7 linked regions of the Homo sapiens genome follow. The protein of the gene in region 2 purifies or fractionates together with the protein of the main gene of each other region. This does not show direct contact. Each region holds a gene or a part of one and is shown on either strand. Other genes may lie near its edges. The genes, in order: ZRANB2, CSNK1G2, OAT, GPATCH8, LARP1, NBEAL2 and HACD3.

Evidence for each region.
Region 1: the proteins of CSNK1G2 (region 2) and ZRANB2 purify together in Homo sapiens (affinity purification with mass spectrometry; one large-scale study listed by BioGRID and IntAct). This does not show direct contact.
Region 3: the proteins of CSNK1G2 (region 2) and OAT purify together in Homo sapiens (affinity purification with mass spectrometry; one large-scale study listed by BioGRID and IntAct). This does not show direct contact.
Region 4: the proteins of CSNK1G2 (region 2) and GPATCH8 purify together in Homo sapiens (affinity purification with mass spectrometry; one large-scale study listed by BioGRID and IntAct). This does not show direct contact.
Region 5: the proteins of CSNK1G2 (region 2) and LARP1 purify together in Homo sapiens (affinity purification with mass spectrometry; one large-scale study listed by BioGRID and IntAct). This does not show direct contact.
Region 6: the proteins of CSNK1G2 (region 2) and NBEAL2 purify together in Homo sapiens (affinity purification with mass spectrometry; one large-scale study listed by BioGRID and IntAct). This does not show direct contact.
Region 7: the proteins of CSNK1G2 (region 2) and HACD3 fractionate together in Homo sapiens (co-fractionation; one large-scale study listed by BioGRID). This does not show direct contact.

The regions. Positions count from the first base shown.
Region 1 is NC_000001.11:71,074,536-71,078,035, reverse strand, and holds part of ZRANB2 (zinc finger Ran-binding domain-containing protein 2), read left to right. Parts: intron 1-1,158; coding exon 1,159-1,241; intron 1,242-3,500. UniProt on the Homo sapiens protein: Splice factor required for alternative splicing of TRA2B/SFRS10 transcripts. Binds to ssRNA containing the consensus sequence 5'-AGGUAA-3'. May interfere with constitutive 5'-splice site selection.
Region 2 is NC_000019.10:1,979,172-1,981,838, forward strand, and holds the end of CSNK1G2 (casein kinase I), read left to right. Parts: coding exon 1-77; intron 78-147; coding exon 148-232; intron 233-323; coding exon 324-472; intron 473-580; coding exon 581-664; coding exon of another isoform or gene 665-739; coding exon 740-846; intron 847-977; coding exon 978-1,032; 3' UTR 1,033-2,167; downstream 2,168-2,667. UniProt on the Homo sapiens protein: Serine/threonine-protein kinase. Casein kinases are operationally defined by their preferential utilization of acidic proteins such as caseins as substrates. It can phosphorylate a large number of proteins. Participates in Wnt signaling.
Region 3 is NC_000010.11:124,416,124-124,420,174, forward strand, and holds the start of OAT (ornithine aminotransferase, mitochondrial isoform 1 precursor), read right to left. Parts: upstream 2,801-4,051; 5' UTR 2,750-2,800; intron 1-2,749. UniProt on the Homo sapiens protein: Catalyzes the reversible interconversion of L-ornithine and 2-oxoglutarate to L-glutamate semialdehyde and L-glutamate.
Region 4 is NC_000017.11:44,426,907-44,430,406, forward strand, and holds part of GPATCH8 (G patch domain-containing protein 8), read right to left. Parts: intron 1-3,500.
Region 5 is NC_000005.10:154,796,877-154,800,376, reverse strand, and holds part of LARP1 (la-related protein 1), read right to left. Parts: intron 787-3,500; coding exon 618-786; intron 505-617; coding exon 335-504; intron 1-334. UniProt on the Homo sapiens protein: RNA-binding protein that regulates the translation of specific target mRNA species downstream of the mTORC1 complex, in function of growth signals and nutrient availability.
Region 6 is NC_000003.12:46,996,666-47,000,165, reverse strand, and holds part of NBEAL2 (neurobeachin-like protein 2), read right to left. Parts: intron 3,416-3,500; coding exon 3,333-3,415; intron 3,213-3,332; coding exon 3,120-3,212; intron 2,908-3,119; coding exon 2,733-2,907; intron 2,606-2,732; coding exon 2,472-2,605; intron 2,100-2,471; coding exon 1,940-2,099; intron 1,704-1,939; coding exon 1,601-1,703; intron 1,450-1,600; coding exon 1,287-1,449; intron 1,208-1,286; coding exon 1,049-1,207; intron 897-1,048; exon of another isoform or gene 867-896; coding exon of another isoform or gene 852-866; coding exon 692-851; intron 537-691; coding exon 451-536; intron 278-450; coding exon 1-277. UniProt on the Homo sapiens protein: Probably involved in thrombopoiesis. Plays a role in the development or secretion of alpha-granules, that contain several growth factors important for platelet biogenesis.
Region 7 is NC_000015.10:65,568,463-65,571,962, reverse strand, and holds part of HACD3 (very-long-chain (3R)-3-hydroxyacyl-CoA dehydratase 3), read right to left. Parts: intron 1,873-3,500; coding exon 1,760-1,872; intron 991-1,759; exon of another isoform or gene 890-990; intron 416-889; coding exon 309-415; intron 1-308. UniProt on the Homo sapiens protein: Catalyzes the third of the four reactions of the long-chain fatty acids elongation cycle. This endoplasmic reticulum-bound enzymatic process, allows the addition of two carbons to the chain of long- and very long-chain fatty acids/VLCFAs per cycle.

The sequences.
Region 1 (3,500 bases), on a different chromosome or scaffold from region 2:
GTCTAATTATAGGTAGGTTTCTTAATGATTTTTATTTTCAGGCTTAGATTTAATTCTTCATTGATTTTTCCAACTTCCATCTTTTCTCTATGCAGATGAATCCTATGTGTATGAAAGAGGTCTAAATCAAAAAAGTATTAAATAAATTTCTCTTTTTGTTTGTTTGTATTTTTTGTTTTTGAGATGAGGTCCCACTCAGTCACCCAGGCTGGAGTGCAGTGGGGCGATCTCAGTTCACTGTAACCTCTACCTCCCAGGCTCAAGCAATCCTCTCACTTCAGCCTCCTTAGTAACTGGGACCACAGGCCCATGCCACCATGCCTGGCTCATTTTTTTATATTTTTGGTAGAGACAGGGTTTTACCATGTTGCCCAGGATGGCCTCGAACACCTGAGCTCAAGCATTCTGCCTGCCTTGGCCTCCCAAAGTGCTGGGATTACAGGCGAGGCATGGGCCACTATTCCTGACCCTAGAGTCTTAAATAAATTTCTGATCCTCAGGATTATAAATTTGTATTGGAAAAGTTTCCAGCTACAGATTTGGTCACTGGATTTGGTATGCTTTGGAATTCAGTGCTTGAACTGAGACCTCAAAAAAATAAATTAATATTATTTATAGGGTATAACCATACTCTTTAAGGTATATTCAGAGACTGAGAAATTAGTGGAGCTGTTAATTTAAAGTTATATTTTTTCATAAGACATCAGAATTTCTATACAGGTTCAGTATCACTTACCTGAAATGTTTGTGGGTTCAGCATCCCTAATCTGAAAATCTGAAATGCTCCTGTGAGCGTTTCTGTTGAGTGTCATGTCCTCTCTCAAAAAGTTTTAGATTTTGGAACGTTTTTGGATTTTGGATTTGTGGATTAGTGATACTCGACCTGTGGTTATAATTTGTCATTTACTTCTCAAAATGACAGAGGCACTTTTCATACTATATAAATTTTGCTTCTCTGCTTAAATGGTTCAGTCCGTTGTTGGAACCCACATTTACTCTTCAGGCCACTGTACATTTTCTTTGTTTACATTACCACTTAATAAACATTTCTTTGACAGTGGTTTCATCCTAGTTTTTATTTTAAAATTGTAAAATATCTAAAAATTTGATATTCATCTATATTATAGCCTACTAATTTAGTATTTTTCACTTCTAAAGTTGCAGCAATGTGAATTGGGCCAGAAGATCAGAGTGTAATATGTGTAATACTCCAAAGTATGCTAAATTAGAAGAAAGAACAGGTATGATAAAACCACATTGTAACTAAATGATTTTTTTTAAAGCACTAAATATTGAAACGATAATTGTATCACCTTCGAGTAAGAGCCACAGTAAGTGAGGATTCTGTTTATTCTGCCCTGAATGTTTGTTACTGGGATTTTTTTCCCCCCATACACACATACAAATCTTTTGTTTCACAATTTATAAAATAACAGTGTTAGGGACCTTTATCCTAACAAGGAGGGACATAAGAATACTTTCAGAAATATTCTCCTCCTCTCCCTTTCACTGGTTTGCATGTTTGTTATTAGTAATGATATAATGATACCATTTTTAAATTCTTTTGATAGCCTGCTGTGACTTAAAGGGCAAAGCCACACCATTTAAAGTGTTCTTCTAAAGCTTTGGCAGTAATTCTGAAACTTAAGCTATGTGCTAGATTATCTGAAAAACTTTTTCAAATATCGATTGCAAAATGCAGAACTGTTAAAGTTATTTGGCGGTGGGTTTCCAACATCTGCAGGTTTTTTGGATGGTGTTTGATAATCATTGGCCTAAATAATAGTTGATCATTGGCTTTGTATGTTACTGGTGAAATGAAAATGTTTACCTAATAGCATATAGTTTTTCCATTATCACCAATTAGCCCAACCACATTATCTGTTTACTTAAAATCTGATTTTGTCTTTCAACTGCTTATATGTCACATGATCAAAGGATTCCTTCTATATCTAGTCACCCTGTCAGACTTAGGCTTGGTGAACTGCTTCCCTGTTTTCTTTGCCTCTCTAACTTTAGGCCGTTTTCATTGTCTGTTTAGTTTCTAGGGATCAGAGGGCCACTGTTCAATCTTTTCGACCTAGCTCTTCCAGACTTCAACAGAAATTCTACTTTTATCCCCCCCCACCCCTTTTTTAAAACTTACATTCTCATATGTGAGAACATTATAACATAATGTCCTTGATCCCCCCTTCCCCAGCCCAACCGCCACTTTCAACCCTCAAATCCTGCCTTATTCTTAGGAAGTGATTTTGCCTTTCCACCGATTGGGTAAGTTAAGGCCTTCTGACAAGGATCTCGTTTTTTTCTTCCCTCACCTAAGGTATGCACCGTACCTCCTTCACCGCCCCCACCAACCCCCGTTTGATTGATTGTTTATTCTGTCTCCTTTGCAGGTTTCTCTTCTTTTGGCCACTGATGTTGGGATTCTTCGCAGCCATCCCTGGCCCTCTTTCTTTCCTCTATTTTCATGGTGTTTTCTTCTAAGCCCAAAGTTTAAGTAACTTTGCCATGATAACCCAAGTTTATGTCTCCAGCTCAGACTTCTTTGACCCATATATCCAGCTGCCTATTCAACATTGCCATGCAAATGTCAAACTCATTATATTCAAACTGAATTTGTGATTTTACCCCTGGGACCTGACCCTCTTCCAATGATCTCTTTCTCATGATTAGTACCACTCACCATACATTTATTACATAAGCTGGAAATCTAGATGTCCTTCTTAGCCTAAATAGCCCTTTCTTGATATCTCCCATACCCCAAAAATTCTTTTCCATTACCACCCTAGGCAAAGAATTACTATGTTTTGTGGAAAAATAGCCACCTAGCTGGTTTCTACATGTTTTTATTTCCAAATTTAAAATCCTTTTTTAAAAAACCCATTTTGATTGCTTTTAGGATAAAGTCTAAAATCTTTTTAACAGTTTCAAAACTTAAAAAAACTTTGACCTATTTCCTGACTCCTTTATAGTTTCATTATCACAAGAACTATAGTTTAACAGAGAAGTAAGCAAATTTTATTTGATAACTTCTCACTTTTCTTATTGTCATTTTTCAGTCATTCTGGTGTCTTGAACCTTTCTCACTTCCCTTGCTACAAGTATTTGTCTTTGCTGGTAACAGTTGAAGGTGTGAAATAACTTACTCTGTTGCTTTCCGCTTTCTTTTGGCTATTTGTAATAAAGCAGTGCAGGGTTTGGGGAGCATTTCCTAAGCATGAGACAGGATATGAATAAAAGAGAATGTGATTCACTACCTCTGAAAGATTGCTGCTGGCTTATCCTGCATAATTCCATCAAATTGTTCAGTAATTTACTTCTCTGTTTCAGGATTTAGGATTATTTTTGTTTTTGTCAGCTTTTTTTTAAAAAAAAAACCATTAAAGATAATGGCATAAAAACAAACTTAGTACATTGTGATTTTTATTCTTTTGGATTCTTTCCTTAGAATATGTTCTCAGGAGTTGAATTAATTGTTCAGGGTGTAGAATCACAGA
Region 2 (2,667 bases):
GCCGCGACGACCTGGAGGCGCTGGGCCACATGTTCATGTACTTCCTGCGCGGCAGCCTCCCCTGGCAGGGGCTCAAGGTGGGCGAGGAGGCCGGGCAGGCGGGCGGGGACGCAGGGCGGGAGCAAGGCTGACCACAGACCCCCGCAGGCCGACACGCTCAAGGAGCGGTACCAGAAGATCGGGGACACCAAACGCGCCACGCCCATCGAGGTGCTCTGCGAGAACTTCCCAGGTAAGGGGTCCCTGCGCCCCCGCCCTGTGCCCCCCACCCCCCACCCCCCACCCCCACCCCCGCCGAGGCCCCGCTGGCGCTCTCTCTGCAGAGGAGATGGCCACGTACCTGCGCTATGTGCGGCGCCTGGACTTCTTCGAGAAGCCCGACTATGACTACCTGCGGAAGCTCTTCACCGACCTCTTCGACCGCAGTGGCTTCGTGTTCGACTATGAGTACGACTGGGCCGGGAAGCCCCTGGTAGGTGGGGGGGTGCCGGTATGTGGGAGCGGGGGACCGGGAAACTGCCCTGAGGGAGATGGGAACCGGCGCTGCAGCCCATCCTGACCCCTGCTCCCTCACCCACAGCCGACCCCCATCGGCACCGTCCACACCGACCTGCCCTCCCAGCCTCAGCTCCGGGACAAAACCCAGCCGCACAGCAAAAACCAGGTGAGGCCCGGGCGGGACCGACCGCCCCAGGGAGGGGCATGGGCGGCCAGCGTGACCCCCTACTGCCCCCACCAGGCGTTGAACTCCACCAACGGGGAGCTGAATGCGGACGACCCCACGGCCGGCCACTCCAACGCCCCGATCACAGCGCCTGCAGAGGTGGAGGTGGCCGATGAAACCAAGTAAGGCTCTGGGGCGGTGCCTTCGGGGAGGTGGGGGTGCCCTGGGTCCCCATGGGGGTGGGAGGGCCTGAGGCCTGGGCTGCCCCCGCCCTGCACCCCGGTCCTCCTACCTGAGCCACTGCCCTCCTCAGATGCTGCTGTTTCTTCAAGAGGAGAAAGAGAAAATCGCTGCAGCGACACAAGTGACCCTGGGCGCGTGCAGCCCCCTGAATCTTCTCCGTGCAGCCCCTTGGGGCGCGACCTTGTGCGAGGCCCTCGGGGCCCACCCACAGCGGCCCAGGGCCAGACCCTGGCTGGAAGCCAGAACGCAGACTGCAGGGGCCGCGCCTGGCTCAGGCGGCCCCACCCCCGGGACGTGGGGTCACTTCCTTCATGTAAGACTTTGGCCGAAATTTCTACACCTGTGTCTAGTCCTCCCCTCCAAGAGCATTAACTATTTAAAACAAGGAAAAGAGGAAAAAAAAAACAGAGGCCCGCCCTACCCCACTCCTGCCCCTCCGTTTCTTTGCTGAAGTGAGTAGTGTGATCCTGGAGGCCCCCCGGCCTGGCCCCGCCCCGCCAGCCGCCCCCGTTAGCGTCATAAAGTCCAGCTTGTCTCCCTCGATCCAAAGGCCGTTTTCTCGAGGGGAGGGCAGGCCCGGCCTGGAGGGGTGCTGTGGAGCTGTCTTGCCCAGGCCCTCCTGGGAGGGGGACAGGCATTGTTGCCAGGGGTGAGGCCGTGCCCCAGGCCTCCCCGAAACCAAAGGGGAAGGCAGGGGTGGGGCCGTGGCTGAAGCCGGCTCCCCAACCAAAATGCTGCACCAAAGCTCGGGCGCCGCGGGCACGGCTGCTGCAGTCTCTTCCCAGCCTGGCCCTGGCAAGGGGCGGGTGGGCGCTGCCAGGCGGGTGCTTCTCGACGCACTTGCTCCCGGAGGCTGCGCCCCGGCGCCTGGAACCCGAGGTGGGAGGACCGGTTGGTGTCACCCTGCTCGGCCCTCAGCCCTGCCGCGTGGGGCGCGTGGGCACGGAGCTTCCTGCCTCTCTGCTCCGACACCCGGCAAGCAGCCGGAGACAAAACGCCTTAAAGCCCCCGGCCCAGCCCTGCAGGTATATTGCAGGGGCCTGGGGGCGGCCCTGGACTGGCGGGCGGTTCCCCAGTGGGGTGCCCTGGAGGCTGCCGGGCAGAGTGGAGCAGCTTGGGGCCGTGCCCAGGGCGGTGGCTGTGAGTCTAGTTTTTGCTTTACCAAGTGTACAGAAATGGCATTTACGTTTCTCTGATGCTCCCTTGAAGCCATAGAATTTAGGGGCTTTTTTAAAAAAATAAAAGAAAAATGAAACCAAACCCAAGTGTAGAGGGATTTGTCTGGGCTTTCCACGAAGCTTGACCTGGAACGGGCGTTGCTTCCATCCCCATCCTGCCTGTCCGGGACGAGTCCGGAGCGGCTGGCGGCCTCCGGTAACAGAAACCGACTGATGAGGCGGAAGGTAAGGAAGATGGAAGCAGAGGGCAGAGCTGGGCTCTGTCTGGGGAGAGGGCAGGAGACGAGTGTTCACGTACCATGGAAAGGGGAAGTCACACACATGCGACTTGGCCCCGGGGGTCCCGTTCCCCGACACTACACAAATATACCTGAAAGCCTCAGCGACGGGGCCCAGGCAGGATGGTCCTGGCTGCTCTGACGGCGGAAGGCCTCCTTGACTCCCTCTGTTCACGCAGCAGGGCAGAAAACATCTCCACGGGGGCCACGACACTGTGAAGGGAATCAGCAGTAGCTCCCAGAAGAACAGCGGAAACTGCAGGCAGGTGAAGACCTTGGCAGCACTAGCCCCGGCTCCGCCCCG
Region 3 (4,051 bases), on a different chromosome or scaffold from region 2:
CTCCCAGGGACTGTGCAGACTTGTAACGGGTCCTAACACTGCAGGCCACTTGTTTTTATGCCTATAAGTCTATACTCTAAGCTCCTTTAAAAAACAGTAAAATTCACTTTGCATTCCTAGAACCTAGCCCAGGTTGGGCATCCTGTGGGCCTTTATCAGATAAAGAGGTCAGTCTTACTTAGGACTCCTGAGGGAGTCAAGGTAGCAAGTGATCAAGACCATGGGATCACCTATCCCTGACCAGGTTGAGTCTAACTCTAAGAGGGGGTGTTCACTCTCTGACCTCATCTAGAATAACTCATCTCTTCATCAAGAGTTTACTTCATTAGATCTAATGGCCTTCAAAGGTCAAAATAATGTGTTCCAGGCAGCTATCATGCATCTACCTGACGCCCATACTCAGGTCCTGGAAATGAGAACAAATTGCTCTTGGCAAGCTAGAATTCTAACACTGAAGGTTTTATCCACGTAATTAACAGGGTCCTTCAGGCTACCATTACTCCCTCCATCTAGCCCATCCATCTACATTAGAACATACCTACAGTAGAATTTCCACAAAAGGCTGCATTTTGAAGTTAATTTAGCCTATACTCTTAAAAACTATTTTCTTACTCTAAAAGAATAGTCGGCGTAAAGTTGTCCAAAAGCCACTTAAAATATTCAACTTGAGGAGTAAATTTGTTCTTGCTATTTTGACAAATATTTACTTTTCCTGAGGTAACCATTCACAAATACAGGCCTTTAAAAAAAAAAAAAAAAAAAAGTTCTACCAACAGAAGTCTCTTTGACGTAATCAGTATTCTGGCTAAAATTCAAGCCAAGTGCATCATTGGCAAACAACTAGTTTTACTACTGAGAAAGGACCGGGGTCAACTACAGCACATCCTCCACACACATCCAAATTCGTGCATTCATCACTATTTGTAAATGTTTGAGATTTGAAAGGTCCTCAAGAACTCACTAAAGGGCATAAAATATGCACACAAATAACTGTAATAAAGGCACGCTATGGGGATAATACATATTAAGACAGCTGCTTTGAGGGAAAAATGTCTTTTAAAAATGTTTACTATTTAAAGTTATACTGGATTTTTCTTTGGGGGGGGGATGCAAAACTAATCTTAAACACCATGAAAAACTGTAAACCCAAAACTATAAGCTTTTTTTTTTTTTTTTTTTTTTTTCGAGACGGAGTCTGTCGCCCAGGCTGGAGTGCAGTGGCACGATCTCAACTCACTGCAAGCTCTGCCTCCCGGGTTCAAGCAATTCTCCTGCCTCAGCCTCCCGAGTAGCTGGGATTACAGGCGCGCACCACGATGTCTGGCTAATTTTTGTATTTTTAGTAGAGAAAGGGTTTCACCATGTTGGCCAGGCTAGTCTCAAACTCCTGGCCTCAGGTGATCCGCCTGCCTGGGCCTCCCATAATACTGGGATTACACAGGTGTGAGCCACCGTGCCGGGCTAAAAATAAGCTTTTTAATTTAACGCTCGTTTTTATGAAAAGATTCATCTAAAGACAGAACCAGGATATTCTAATGAAAGGAGTCTATTGTTATTTCACATGGCTAAGAGCGATTGATTACAATCTAAAGAACAGTTCCGGGGTTAACTGAAAGAACTAGCTTATCCACAGAAACCCTTTCAATCCCAGAAGGAGAAATTTAGAATTTGGAAACTGAACATTAGTCATTTCTTAAGGTAAAGCCACTTCATTCCAAAGTCACTGTCTGTTCGCCCTTAATTTATCACCGTAATTTATCTAAGAGGTAAAACTGAACACCGAAAAGGTAAGATGTAGAGTGACAAAAGGAGACGGTGGGTCACAGGGCGAGTGCCCAGGTGACTTCGGGCCTCAGTCCTCTCGCCAGCAAAGGGCGGACAATGACCCCTCCCGTCCCGCCCGGGAAGGCGATCGAGGAAACGCACTGGCCAGGCCCATTTACTGATGCTCAGCAGGGTTTGCAAAAAGCCCCCAACGGGAGGTTTTCATGCTGAAAGTCCTGTTGCCCCCCCATCCCCCACCATCTAATTAACCTGCACGTTACTGTAAGGAAGGTTCTGCTTCCGTAATTTTCTTTATTTCGACAGAGGCTGGAGAAAAAAAATCATAGGCTGGAAGAGGGGAGCGATGGGCAGGCCGATCTGCAGGGCGCAGGAGCAGGCCGGGAGGACCCAGCCCTCCAAGGCTGCATCAGCGCCCCCGCCGCGTGACCAGGGCCACCGGTTTACTGCACAGCTCCCCCGTCCCCAGAACGCAGCCTCCCCGCCAACCCCAGGAACCAAGGGTGCCCAAAGGCCTCCTACCCGGAACCCCGGGGCGCCTCGGGGTCTCTGGGCCGGGTGGGCCGAGTCCTGGCCTCCACAGGCCGCGAGCGCAGGGGGCGGCGGCTCCGCCCGGTCTGGCAGGCGGGGCTGCCACATCCTCAGCCTCTCCCTGCCGCCCGCCCGTCGGCCGCTCTGGGCTGGAACCAGGACTCCGGCCTGCAAGCCGTGGGTCGCCACGCCCCTGCCCCCTGAAGCTGCGCGCCGGCCGGAGACTCCAGGGCGCCCGGGTCCGAGCCGCCCGCAGAGTAAACGGGCCGCTGAAGCGGGGCTCGTTCCCCGGCCGAGGCCCAGCGCGCCCCCTCAGCCAGCATCCCCCGAACCCGGGCCGCGGCCACCCCGCGCCCGCCCGCCTCCCCCGCCGCTGTCAGGGAACCCCGGCCAGGGCCCGAACCAGAGCCCCAGGACAGCGGCGCCCAGACGGTACCTGACAGCGCCTGAGGACAACCGGGTACACGCGGCGTCTATGAAGCGCAACAGTGACGCCGGAGAGTCACTGCAACTTAAAGGCTGATTCTGCCCCGCCCCCAAGACACCCTCGCCGCTCATTGGCTGGGGCGGAGGGCAGGATACCAATCGCGTGGGTCCCGTCCTCCGCCCCGCCCTCCGGCCGCGCATCAAGGATCTTTGCTCCTCCCGCGGATTCGATCCGCGCTCGCGCCTCCTGAGCCCGCCGGCCTGTACCTGAGCTCAGGCCCCTCGGTCGCCTCCTCTGGCGGGACGAGAAGAGTCCTTGTCCGCCCTTGCTGACGAGAAGACTGAGGCCCGAAAAGGAAAAGTCTGTTGGGCCCCCCACTGCGCGGGCCGGGTGTGGCTGGAGGCCGAGAGACGTGAGGCTGGACCGCCCGCCCTGTGCTCCTGGAGGGAGGGACCAGCCCCAGCTCTGCCCCAGCCACAGCTGCGGGAGCCCCATGCCCTTGAACCCTGATGCGCCGCGCGGCTTAGTTGTGCCTCTGAATCCACCTCCAAAAGTCGTCGCTGCCTATGGAAAACACACTGCCCACCTGTTCGCAGCTGCTGTCAGATAATTGAGTGGCAGCAACCCACTCACAGTACAGATTTGCCTGTGGTGCCCTCCACAGCCGGTTATTAAATTCAGAACACAAAATAGATATTCCGGGACAACCTCATGTTAGAATCGGAAGGGACTTGGACTTCACTTAGCCCACAACAAGATGTTAAATATTGGAAAACAGAGACCCAGAGAAGGAAAGCGACTTACCCAGTCATCCAACAGTAGGGGCAGTCTGGTCCTGTGTGCCCCTCGCCACCCCTCTCAGAGGGCAGGCGCTGGCAGCTGCCGGCACCACACTCCATTAGACCACAATGACCAGTCGGGGGCCCAGCTGGAAACAGAGGGCACACTCCAATGTGAACATTTCCTAAAACGTGGTGGTGGGGGCCCGTGGTTCATGCCTGTAATCCCAGCACTTTGGCAGACCGAGGCAGGAGGATTGCTTGATCCCAGGAGTTCCAGACCAGCCTGGGCGACACAGTGAGACCCCGTCTCCACAAAAAAAAATAAAAATTAATCTGGTGTGGTGGCACACCTATGTTCCCAGCTACTCCAAAGGCTGAGGTGGGAGGATCACTTGAGCCCAGGAGGTTGAGGCTGCAGTGACCTATGACTGCACCACTGCACTCCAGCCTGGGCAACAAAGCAAGACCATCTATCTTAATCAACCAATCAATCAATCAATGTAGGCAAGTAAACCACAAGGGATGGAGA
Region 4 (3,500 bases), on a different chromosome or scaffold from region 2:
AGTGGTACAATAAATACTATAAGATATCTAAGGAAAGAATTAACTTAGGATTTTATATGTATCTTTCAAATATAGGGAATACATACACGTATATATGGAGTTATATGTATGTGTACATATATACACACATATACATAAGTTGATATATATGTAATTGCCTAAATTAATATTACTATTTTTTTTTTTTGAGACAGCGTCTTGCTCTATTGGCCAGACTGGAGTGCAGTAGTGCAATTACAGTTCACTGTAGCATCGACCTCCTGGGCTCAATTAATCCTCCCACCTCGGCCTTCTGAGTTGCTAGGACCACAGGGGCATGCCACTATGCCTGGCTAATTTTTGTATTTTTCGTAGAGACAGGGTTTCATCATGGTGCCCAAGGCTGGATGTGAATTATTTTTATAGGCTTATGTTTATATAAAATACATATATATATAAATAATTCAAGAAACACTGTTTGCACAACCACTTTTAAGTAAGTTAATAGGGTACAAAATTCAGAAATAATAGAAGAAAACTCAGCAAAAGAACTGGCAGACTGCTTTAAAACCATTTACTCCTATAACTAAGGTTAAAAGAAATAGGGCTATTAAAGTATATACATATAACTGTAACATATACATATAACTATGTATGTTATATGCTGTCAGAAAATAGAAATGATACAAATAATAAAAAACTGGGTGGGCAGGCAGAAGCAGATATGAATTTGAGTTTGCTTACTTCTGCAAACTCAATAGAAGTAAAAAGAACTTTACAAAACATGAAAATTATTAAGTAATAGAAGTAGTGTACATAATATAATAATTAAATGGTATGAAGCCACATACTAAGAATGGCCATTTTACTTATTAACATTATATGATAGAGTTTTTAAAATGGAAGAGGAAAGAAGAGAAAACAAGCTAGCTTTTTATTGCTTATAGTACGAAAATAATGGACACTCAAACATGGGTAATTTCATTAAGTTATAAAGGTAACTAGAACAACACAAATATAATCCATCCTATATCCATCCATCCATCCATGTATCCATCCATCCATCCATTTATTTCCCACTTTGAGACCACATAATAACTTAAAAAATAAAATAGGCCAGGCGTGGTAGCCCATGTCTGTAATTCCAGCACTTTGGGAGGCCGAGGCAGGCGGATTACCTGAGCTCAAGAGTTTGAAACCAGCCTGGGCAACATAGCAAAACCCCATCTTTACCAAAAATACAAAAAATTAGCTAGGCGTGGTGGTGTGCACCTGTAGTCCCAGTTACTTGGAAGGCTGGGGAAGTCCTTCAAAAAGTACTCGTAGGCTGGGTGCGGTGGCTCATTCCTGTAATCCCAGCACTTTGGGAGGCCGAGGTGGGTGGATCACCTGAGGTCAGGAGTTTGAGACCAGCCTGACCAACGTGATGAAACCCTGTCTCTACTAAAAATACAAAAATCAGCCAGGTGTGGTGGTGGGCGCCTGTAATCCCAGCTACTTGGGAGGCTGAGGCACGAGAATCACTTGAATCTGGGTGGTGGAGGTTGCAATAAGCTGAGATCGCACCATTGCACTCTGGCCTGGGCAACAGAGTGAGACTCCATCTCAATTAAAAAAAAAAAAAGTACTTGTAGAGGCCAGGCATAGTGGCTCACACCTGTAATCCCAGCACTTTGGGAGGTTGAGGTGGGTGGACAGCTTGAGCCTAGGAGTTCAAAACCAGCCTGGGCAACATGGTGAAACCCTGTCTTTACAAAAAATATAAAAATTAGCTGGGTGTGGTGGCATGCACCTGTAGCCCCAGATGCTCGGGAAGCTGAGGTGGGAGGATCGCTTGAGTCCAGGAGGTCGAGGCTGCAGTAAGCTGTGATCACTGCCACCGCACTTCTAGGTGACAGAGTGAGATCCTGTCTGGGTGACAGAGTGAGACCCTATCTCAAATAAACAGTACTCATAGAATATTTACACAGACAAGGCCAGGCACGCTGGCTCATGCCTGTAATCCCAGCACTGTGGGAGGCCGAGGTGGGCGGTTCACGAGGTCAGGAGATCGAGACCATCCTGGCTAACATGGTGAAACCCTGTCTCTACTAAAAATACAAAAAATTAGCCGGGCGTGGTGGCAGGCACCTGTAGTCCCAGCTACTCGGGAGGCTGAGGCAGGAGAATGGCATGAACCCGGGAGGCGGAGCTTGCAGTGAGCCGAGATGGCGCCACTGCACTCCAGCCTGGGCGACAGAGACTCCATCTCAAAAAAAAAGAATATTTACACAGACAAAAAGCCCATTATAGGCTATAGAAGAAACTGTAATAAAGTCAGAAATGAAGAAGTAATATGCACAACATATATCAACACAGTATAATACAGCTAAGAATTAACAAAAATGTTTAAAAGACCCTTCCATGAATCTGAAGCTGCAGAATTTTAAGGTAAAAAAGGATAATGACAACATTATACAGAGGCTAAAGTATATTGCTTTAAGAAGTTAAGCCTATGTGTATTCCTTGAACACAGGTTTAACCCCTTACAGCAATGGAAACAAGAAAATAAATAAATGTCACACTCTGGAGAAAATCTTGTGTGTATATATATATACAAGAAAACTGATTCCACTTATATAAAGTTAAAAAACATGTAAAACTAGGCCACGTGGTGGCTCACGCCTGTAATCCCAGCACTTTGGGAGGCCAAGGCAGGTGGATCACCTGAGGTCAGGAGTTCGAGACCAGCCTGGCCAACATGGTGAAACCCCGTCTCTACTAAACACACACACACACACACACACACACACACACACACAAAACAACAAACAAACAAACAAACAAAAACCAGCTGAGCATGGTGGCACGTGTCTGTAATCCCAGTTGCTCGGGAGGCTGAGGCACAAGAATTGCTTGAACTCAGGAGGTGAAGGCTGCAGTGAGCTGAGATCGTGCCACTGCACCCCAACTTGAGTGACAGAGTAAGACTCCGTCTAAAAAAAAAAAACAAAATTAGCTGGACGTGGTGGCGCACGCCTGTAATCCCAGCTACTTGGGTGGCTAAGGCATGAGAATTGCTTGAACCCGGGAGGCACAGGTTGCTGTGAGCCATCGTGCCACTGCACTCCAGCCTGGGCGACAGAGCAAGACTGTCTCAACAAAGCAAGACTGTCTCAAAACCAACCAACCAACCAACCAACTCACCGACCCACCCACCCACCCACTACATAAAACTAAGCAATACATATTTAGGATACAAAACACATTAAAAAACCATTTTAAAATGCAAGGGAAAATAGAAGAGGAAGGAACACTTCCTAATTTATTCTGAGTATTACCCTGATACAAAGACATTACAAGAAAACTACAGACTAATATCTTTTCTGTGTACAGATGCAAAAATGCTCAACAAAATGCTATCAAACCAAATTCAACAGCATATTAAAAGGCGAAGTGGGATTTATCCCAGGAACTCAATGTTGGTTCAACATACAAAAATCAATCAATGTAATACACCACTACAATGTAATACACCATTA
Region 5 (3,500 bases), on a different chromosome or scaffold from region 2:
CAGCCCCAGAAATTTAGATGGAGCAAAAAGAAGAGCCAAGAATCAAGAAGCCAGAAACATCGCTGCCAGATGCTGCATGATCCCTTAAGAAAAATGTCACCGAGGAACTCACACAGTAGGGCGCCCTAAAGGGTGGTTCCCCACAGGAAATGGAAACAAGCCAAATCAACCTTTCTGTAGCCACTACTGGTAACTTCAACTCACACTATGATCCTGAACTACCCAGATTTCCTGCTGGCCCCTCAGAGCTAGAGTGCTGTGCCCATGTGTTATCCCCTTCAAGCACCCTAGCTCAGAGTGCTAGAACCAAGGCAAGGGACAAGGCCTCACCCACCTTGGGCCGTGCTGGGGATGGCCGAGGCCTCTTCTTCACTTCAATCCAGTTCTCAGAATCCAGGTCAGGCAGGCTGGCAGACAGGCCCTTGGGTAGTGTCTTTAGGTTGCTGACCTCCTCTGTTTTGGTTGGCACTGGGGTGACTGCACGAGGAGAGCCAGGTGCCGACTCTAAAGGGTGGAAAGGGGAAGTCCTCATCCCTCCAGTCCTCCTCCTGATGCCAGCCCTGAGGAGGACTGTTGCCCAGAGGACAAGGGCAATCTTCATGCCAGCAGGTACCTACCTGTCTCCTTTTGGTAGTGCTGACGGGGAACAAATTCAGGGCAGTTGAGAAGCTGGGAGAAATCAGTCTGTGAATAATCCACTATTGGGGGAAGAGGCCACTTTTCTGGTTCCTCCCTCCTACGAACTTTCTCATCAACGATCTCCACCACCTTGCTGTCCTTTAGGGCCTGAAGGGGAGGAGAAGGAAGAGGGGATTAAGAAGAAAATCTTGGACAGAAAGATCTTGGAAATGGTAGACAACTGGGTTCCCCTGAGCTTGGTATGAGTCCAATGCTACCAGTAATATAAGAAAATTGACACCATCTTCCACGACTGGTAGATAATGTGAGATGTTCAAACTTGTAGGAGGTACCAGCATAATAAATACACCTACCCTTTTACTCTTTGAGCCTGCAATCCTACTTCCAGTAATCTGCTCTAGAGAACACTTGCACAAACAGGGAGCAGTATGTATAATATCTGGACAAAAAGCCATTCACAGTAAAACTAGAGTAGAAAAAGAACTATAAAATACCTAACTTGCCATCGCATAGGCAATTTAAATATTTACAGCATATGCATGATGGAACACTACTCAGACATTAAAAAACTTTACAGGTCGGGCCTGGTGGCTCACGTCTATAATCCTAGCACTTTGGGAGCCCCAGGCAGGCAGATCACAAGGTCAAGAGATTGAGACCATCCTGGCCAACATGGTGAAACCCCATCTCTACTAAAAATACAAAAATTAGCTGGTTGTGGTGGCACACGCCTATAGTCCCAGCTATTCGAGAGGTTAAGCAGGAGAATCGCTTGAACCCAGGAGGTGGAGGTTGTGGTGAGCCGAGATGGTGCCACTGCACTCCAGCCTGGGCGACAGGGCGAGACTCCGTCTCAAACAAACAAACAAACAAACAAACAAAAAAACAACCAACTTTACATGTGCTGAGGTGGATAAACCCACAAAATATTAATCAAAAAAGCAGGCTGGGTACAGTGGCTCACACCTGTAATCCCAACATTTTGGGAGGTCAAGGTGGGTAGATCGCTTGAGCAAAGGAGTTCAAGACCAGCCTGAGCAAAATAGCGAGACTCTATCACTACAAATCGTAAAAAGGTGGCGCTGGCATACATCTGTGGTCCCAGCTACTTGGGAGCCTAGATGGTTGAGGTTGCAGTGAGCTTTGATAACACCACTGTACTAACTCCAGCCTGGGCAAAAGAGCAAGACCTAGTCTCAAAAAAACAACCAAAACATCCATCTATAGGAGCAGCAGTTGAAAAAACATGGAGCATTCCACACAATGGTGAACTATGCAACTGTACACAGGAATGAGGAATATCTTTCTATTATATACTGCTACTTTGCAGTTAGCTCCCAGATATATTAAGTTAAAACAAAAAAGAATTGAAGAAATGCCATGTGTTGTATATTTCCATTTACCAAGGATACAAATACATGTAGAGGCATTTGCTTTTTTCTTAAATGGAAAGGTTCTAAAAAGTTTGCCTGTAAGAGAAGAAAGGGTGTAAGTGACAGAATTTAAGTCAGACTTCTATGACTATACCATGCTGAGACTCTAGAACCACGTAAATGTTTTACACAAATGTAAAACAACTTAGAAAATTATAGGGGTAGGGAGAAAGCAATCTCTAAAACTTGGAAGCAAAATAAAACTAATATATATATCAATTTAAATGTGAAACCACACAAAGATTCTTTCAAATGACTTGAAGATACTGTATAAGTGGAAAAACTGTTTTCAGTGGTAGTGGAGGTATTGTAAGAATGTAGAGCTTGGCACAATGGCTCACGCCTGTAATCCCAACACTTTGGAAGCCGAAGTGAGAGGATGGCTCAAGCCCAGGAATTTCAGACCAGCCTGGGCAACACTGCAAGACCTCATCTCTACAAAAAATTTAAAAATTAGCCACACGTGGTGTGCACCTGTAATCCTGCTACTCAGGAGGCTGAGGCAAGAGGATTGCCTGATTTCAGGCGGTTGAGGCTGCAGTAAGCCATGATCACACCACTGCAATCTAGCCTGTGAGAGCAAGACCCTCTCTCTTTAAAAAATGTTTAAAAAAAAAAAAAAAAGACGGTAGACATACTGTGAAATAAAACAAAATGAGTAATTATGTTGGTATCATTAGGAATTAAGATTATGGGCATGGAAGAAAGCAGTAGGTAAAATAAAAGATCCACAAGTCTACGTAAAGACCCTTTAATAGAAAATACCAGAACAGGCCGGGCGCGGTAGCTCATGCCTGTAATCCCACCACTTTGGGAGGCCGAGGTGGGTGGATCACCTGAGGTCAGGAGTTCGAGACCAACCTGGCCAACATGGTGAAACCCCATCTCTACTAGAAATACAAAATTAGCTGGGTGTGGTGGTGCATGCCTGTAATACCAGCTACTTGGAAGGCTGAGGCAGGAGAATTGCTTAAACCTGGGAGGTGGAGGTTGCAGTGAGCTGAGACCATGCCACTGCACTCCAGCCTGGGCAACAAGAGTGAAACTCTGTCTCAAAAAAAAAAAAAAAAAAAAAAAAAAAAACAACAACAACAAAACAGAATAACTCCATGATGTATTTTATCTCACCAAAAAACAAAAAAATCATCTAGAAAGAATGACCAACCAAGTAGCAATAAAGCACCCCTATAACTCAGACTGGTATCTAAATACCATTTCCCAAAAGAAAGGAACTAGAATTCCTTTTAAAAGTGGCCAATTCCAGATCTGGGGCAGGAAATGTATAGGGTCCCACTGACCAAAGGTGGGACAATTTGATCCAATCCATTAACTGCAATGGACCAAAATAAATACGTTTGAGCCCATAAGCTTATAATAACAAATGATACGAAAACAAACCACCAAATCTCACTGGTCACCTATGAAACC
Region 6 (3,500 bases), on a different chromosome or scaffold from region 2:
AGGGCGTGCAGAATGGGGAGAGAGCATGGTAAAAGCCATCAGGGTCAGGGCAGGGGGCCTCTGAGGGCAGGAAGACATCTGAAGGCTCAGCAGGTGACTCAGTGGGTGGCTTGGGTGGGGCTGGCTTGGGGGAGGTAGGTGACTCTGGGGAAGACGGAGGGGGGCTGCCGGCTGTGGCAGCCTCCAGGACATATAGCCGGGTCAGCACATCTTGCCAGCCAGCCTGTCGGGCCAGAAGCCGCACTACATCTGGCTGTCCGTAGATGAGGTGGAAAAGCTGCAGGCGAGAGCACAGCAAGTGAGGACGCATCCAACTGCCTGCTCCAGACCCTCATCCAGGGCCTTTGCAGAGGAGGGCTCCAGAGACCCCTCATGAGACAGGCAAGGTGGAAGGCCAGAGGGTAGAAGCCACCCTCCCCCTCCCCCAAAGCTTTTACCTCTCATGCTCACCTGGCGACAGATGTCTAGGCGAACGCTGAGGTCAGCCTGGAGGGACAGCTGTACCACAGCCAGCAGATCTGAGAGGTTCAGGCAATCTGGGGGGATGGGTTGGGGGGACCTGAGGGACTGACCAGACTAGAAAGGGCAGGGCCCAGCCCTGGCCCCTATGCCACTATCTTCCTTCTTCCGGCCTGCCTGCCCTGTTTTTCTGACATGTCACCCCCTCCACTTGGCCTTAACCAGGTTGTACCTGCCCCCAGGAACAGCTTGTAGAGGCCCTGGCAGAGCTGGGGGGAAACAGTCCCCTCAGGCAAGCAGGCAACCAGACCCTGGAGACCACACTCCCGCAGCCGGAGGCGCTGGCGGCTCCGCTCAGGTAGCCGCTCATTCTGCTGCAGTCTGCGCAGGATCTGTGTGGGGGTCATCGGAGGACTGTCATCATGTGGAAGGAGTTACTGTAGGAGGGGAAGTCACCGTGCAGGTGTGTGGCTCAAGAGGCCCTTGAAGGCAGCTTCATCCGCTGGCCCAAGGCCTGCTGTACCTCCCTGAACCCCAGGCAGGGGCCCCAGTGAATGGGATGCCAGGGGAGGGGGTGGGCTGGGTGTACCTTGCAGACTCGATCGGGCAGCAGGGGCAGTGACCCTGGCCGCACTAGCAGGGCCAGTAGCACTTCGAGGTTCCCTGGCTCCAACAGAAAGACAGCCAAGGACTCCTGCACCAGGGAACCGTGCAGCAGGGCCAGCAGCAGGTCCAGCGCACCCACCGCCTGGGGATGCAGGGTCTCACACTGTGTCGGGCCCCCACTCCCCTCACCCAAGCCTCCCGCTCCCCAACCTCCAGCCTACCTGACCGTCATCGCCTGTGGCCGCCAAAAAGCTCAGCATGGTCTGCGTGACCTGCACGTCATCTGCTGAGAGACTCCGCACCAGGAACTCCCTCGCCAGGCCCAGGAGGGAGGTCTGCACGGTGCGTAGGTCGTCAGCAGCCAGGGGGCGCTCCCGCTGCGGGCTGGCAGGTCAGTAGGCACACCCAGCCAGGTCCCAAAGAAAGGCGGGGAGAGAGGGTGGGCAGGTGAGTCAGGGAAGCGCACCGCCCAGTCCCCAAGGCCGGAGGCCACTGTGTCAGCCCCCCATGGCCCATCTGGCCCCACTGGCCTCACCTGTAGTGGGTGCGCAGAGCATCCAAGATAAACTGGACGCCGTACTTCTTCCGCAGCTTCTGTCTGTGCTCCCGAACTATGCTGGACATGTACTGGATGTGACCTGAGCGGGAATGAGCAGAGGGCTCAGGCCACTAGGCTGAGCTGGGCCCTTCAGATCCTCCAGGCCAGGGCCATGTGCCTGTCAGACTTCCAGGGCAGGGTCATAGTCCCCTCAGCCGCCCCATGGCATTCTGGATTCCTAACAGGTGAGTCCCTCAGATCCCCCAGAGCAGAGTTCTAACTTCTCAGTGCTCAGCTGCCCTATGGCCGGCCCCTTGCTCAGGTCCTCACACCTACCGAGGCGCACGGCGAAGTCACTGAGGGTCCAGAGGTGAAAGTTGAAGAGCAAATGCTGGTAGAGTAGGTACAGGAGGGGCCCGCTGCCCTCAGCTGCCACCTGCTCCATCAGCAGCTGGGCGGACATGAGCACGTTCATGTCCATGGCCCAGCTTGGGACCTGGGATAAGACAGGAGCTGGAGTGAGGGCTCAGGCTCTGCCTGTCTGCTGTCTGAGCTTTTCAGCTGCCACTCTTCCCTGCACAGCCATGACGGCCACAAACATGGCCACCAGCCTGCTCAGAACCCTTTGGGGGCTTCCTGCCGCCTCTGACACGCAAGCCTCCTGCCTGCTGTGCGGGTCCCTGCCCCGACCTGTGCTGGGCCTTTCCCCAGATCCTCCAGACCCAACCCTGCTCGGCCTTTCAGGCCCCACTCAAGTGGCAACTCTCCCAGGAGGTTCTTCATGACTGACAGGGTTCCCCACTCAGTCCCCTCGGTCAGACAGGCTGACCATACCCCTAACCCCCATGCCTGTCCCACCGGGCCCCACCTTTCGCAGGAGGGCCCCGATGATGGCAGGCCCCTGGCACTGCACCAGGCTCTCTTGGTTCACCATGTGACCCTGAAGGAAGTTCCGCAGCATCAGCAGAAAAGCAGCCACTGCGTTCCTCTCCATCCGTTCCTCTGCCAGCCATCAGGAAGGGGACAGATGTGTGTCAAGGGCCTGCCAGTGGCCAGGAGACCTTGGGCATTCCACCCCCCTACCATGCCAAGATTCCCTCTCCACAACATAGGCACCAGGAACACTTACCTGAAGATTTACCCAATGGGAGAACCAGGCCCTGGGTGTTGTGACCAGAGGTCAGTTCAGGACCCACGAGGTCATGCGTTTCAGCTGGACCTGCTTCAGCCTCTTTGGGCTGTGCAGCTACTCGCTCCAGCAGGGGCAGCAGGGCACCCATACCCCCAACGCAGTTCACCACATCCTGGGGGAAGGAGGATGGCAGTGAGGGGGACCTTCCAGCCAGTTTCCTGCCCTACTCCACCCCAGCAGACCACCCAGAAAGGAAGTTTTGCTCTCTTGAGCTGGACTGTCCAAATCCTCCCCAGGCACAGCGCTGCTCCCCAGCTGACTCCGAACACACATGTGCCCCATATTCATGCCTCCTGCACACACCACCCACACGTGCTCACAGACCTTCACATCCCAGGTCTCCACTCTGTGGCCCGTCAGGCGCCCATCAAGCCCATGACTGGGGGACAGGTCCAGGCAGATGTTGTTCTTACAAGCCTAGGGATAGGGGAATGGGCAGGCAGCCAGGGTCAGAGGGAGGAGGGGGTGGCAGGCAGAGTGTGGGAGCCGGGGAAGTAGCACAGTCGAGCCAACCACTCCCCTGGGGCCCCCAAATACCTGAGGTGAGTAATGGAGGAGCAGCCTGGTGCTGAGCTCATGCAGCTCCCCCTCAGGCTTGAAGGGTGCCGTCTCATTGGGCCCTGGGAGGTGGGCAGGGGGCTTCAGACCTTGCTAGGCCTCTGGCCAAACCCCATCCAGAGACTGCCTGACCACAGGAGAGACCCC
Region 7 (3,500 bases), on a different chromosome or scaffold from region 2:
TGTATGAGATGTTTGTCAGAATAAAATAAAGTCATCAGTAAGAACCCCCTTTGGAATACTAAAAGCATCATACAAATGGGAAGCATGCAGGACATAACCACCTGGCTTTCCAATGTTACAAAATGAGCTACTTTTCTCGAACAGTCTGGGTACCAGGAGTATTATGGAAGGAAGCCCATGGAAAGAAATCCCTGAAAAATCCAACATTTCCATTTATCGGACTAAGGCCGGGGAAGAAAGGACTGGTCTCTCAGCCTCTGGGTACCCCCTGGAGCTAAGCTATGAAAGCTAAGAGTCCCTGAGAGTACCTTCCGCCAAACATCCCAGTGGATATAAGGGAATCCACAGAGTGTAACGAAGCCATGTGAGCACCTTCCAATCCATGTCAATGCACGTCAGCATGTAGAAAGAGTACCTATTGAAAATAAATGATTCCAATGTGAAAAGCCACTTCAGGTTCCGAATGCAACCTTAGAATATCATTTAAATAGAAGAATTCTATTTCTCAGCCACACATGGCTTCTTCAGAACAGAATTATAACGCTGGCTATCAACCCATAAACTCCTGCCACACTGCGCCCTAAATTTTCAAAGGATCTGAACGCTCTTTAATGGCAGACTAAGTTTAGGTCTCAAAGGAACCCTCTTTATTCGGTAAACGGACTGGATACTCAGATGTTTTTTGGCTTTATTCCTAGTGCTGATATACATTCCCGGTGGGTAAGGATATTAGATACTTTATTTCTGGATAAGTGAGTTGTTACCAAAATTAAAGTATACAGAAGACCTCTAATCTAGAATCAGACATATGCTATTTTAAAAGACATCCCTTGAGAAAATAAATGTTCCTTCTCAAACAGTAAACATTGCATTAAGGACCCATAATCTGATCCTTTTATAGCTCATAAGTGTGATAACTGGATTTTCACTCTCCTGTGTGAGATGTGCTTCCCTCAAACCTTGTTACATCAGCACATTACGTGTCTGATTTGAAAAACATAGGACCTATAATCTGTTTTACCTTTGTATTAAGGCTATTAGAGGGTACACTGGGTGCCATGGGACACAGACCATGGTTAAGACACAATTTAAGGCTGCTATGGCCTGTTCTCTCTCTCAACTAGCAACTTTGTCAAAATACCACCAAACCTGGAGCTGAGAAGTTCATTTGCAAAATCCTTGCTCCAGCTGACTGAAAGGGAAGACATATGGAGTGTGTATGGTCTGGTAAAGAAGAATACATCTACTTTAACTAGATCCATTTCTTAAAAGATATTTATGCTACTAACAACCGAGAACGGGAAAATTGGGTTAGAGGCCATTTCAAACTTCAATAATCTTGTGGTATAAGATTCATTTCTATCATCCCTTGTAGAAATTTAGTCTTAAATTAGTTCTATCCAACCTGGATTGCTCCTTCAACCTCCTGTTTCTTCAGCCCTTTCAAGAATTTTTCCATGTGGATGGGTCCTCTCTTTCCAAGACTGCAAGATCCTGAAGTCATGGTAAGATGAGTCTTCCCTTTCTCTGGTTCTCCTCTTCTGCTCCCTAGTATCCAGTCTGGTATTATGATCCAATGACGGCTTTAAAAAAATCTGTCTCAACTTTGCAGAGCACATAGGTGCAACCAGAATTCTCCACATATGTAATCTTAGTCCCAAACCAAATGAGACTCTGGCTAAGATAACAACTCCCTCAAGAACAGAGCTGCTGCAAACAGGGAGCAGCATTCAAACACCATCCTGGCATTTCTACCCACCTGAAAATTTCAATTGCACTCCACAAATAAAACACAAAGAAAACCACAGCTTTGTTCTGCATTTCTTCCATGGTGCCAAAGATGATAAACAAAATAAAATTTCTTCCAAGAAGCTATTAGAAAGACCCAAAAGAGAGAAAAAAGTTAATAAAATATATGTAAAGTTATAGAAATGTGTTATCTGAAATCTAACCCCACTAAATGCAAGGCAAATAGAAAAGATTGACCTCGACCAGTTTAATCCTGCTCCAGTTCTGGAACAAGTAAAGTGCCCAAACCAGTCTTTGTGACTAGACAGGTACAGTATTTTGTGTAACTATATCATAAATCATTTCTTTAAAATACAGACACATGTTCAAACGCAGTCTAAAGAATACTGCCAAATAAACATTTGAGTTTATATAACCCAAGTTAAGAAATAGAGCACTACAAACGTGGGACCCCTATAAATAACTACTATCATGTGTTAATAATTCCATGGCTTTTCTTTTTTATCGAGACGGGGTCTCGCTCCGTCACCCGGGCTGGAGTGCAGTGGTGCAATCATGGCTCACTGCAGCCTTGAACTTCTGGGCTCAAGCAATCCTCCCACTTCAGCCTCTCAAGTAGCTGGGATCACAGGTGTGTGTACTACCACACTGGCTAATTTTATTTTTTTGTAGAGACGGGGTCTCACTGTGTTGGCCAAGCTTGCTCAAACTCTTGGGCTCAAGTGATCCTCTTGCGTCAGCCTCCCAGAGTGCTGGGATTATAGGCATGAGCCACTGTGCCTGGCCCATGGCTTTTCTTTATGAATTACTGCTTGTGTATGTATTCCTGAACAGTATATTGTTTCATTTTGCCTGTTTTAAAACTTTCTGAAATCATTCTATATGTATCATTCTGTGACTACTTCTTACTCAGAGTTACGGGCCAGAGACTCATCTATGTTTTTTGGTCTTGTTTTTTTTTTTTTTGAGACAGAGTCTCGCTCTGTCGTCCAGGCTGGAGTGCAGTGGCACGATCTTGGCTCACTGCAAGCTCCGCCTCCCGGGTTCATGCCATTCTCCTGCCTCAGCCTCCCGAGTAGCTGGGACTACAGGCGCCCGCCACCACGCTCAGCTAATTTTTTCTATTTTTTAGTAGAGACGGGGTTTCACCATGTTAGCCAGGATGGTCTCGATCTCCTGACCTTGTGATCCACCCGCCTCGGCCTCCCAAAGTGCTGGGATTACAGGCATGAGCCACCGCGCCCGGCCAAGACTCATCTATGTTGATGCATGTGGCTATAGTCCACTCATTTTCACGTGGCAAGACATTCCAATATATGATAGACATTCTATTCTTCATAGATATCTGGGTTGTCTGTTTCTGGGTTTTATTCTGTTCCCGTGGTCTGTGTGACTATCTTTGTACCATACAACGTGGTATTAGCTACTAAATCTTTATACTGTCTTGATTTTTTATAGGGTAAGTCCCCAATTTGAGCTCGTCTTTAAAGAATATTCTCGACCTTTTGCTTTTTTCTTTTTCCCATTTTAAAAATTGTGGTAAAATACACATAATGGCTGGGTGCGGTGGCTCATGCCTGTAATCCCAGCACTTTGGGAGGCCGAGGCTGGCAGATCATTTGAGGTCAGGAGTTCAAGACCAGACTGGACAACATGGTGAAACCCCATCTCTATTAAAAATACAAAAATTAGCCAGGCGTGGTGGCAGATGCCTGTAGTCCCAGCTACTCGGGAGGCTGAGGTAGGAGAAT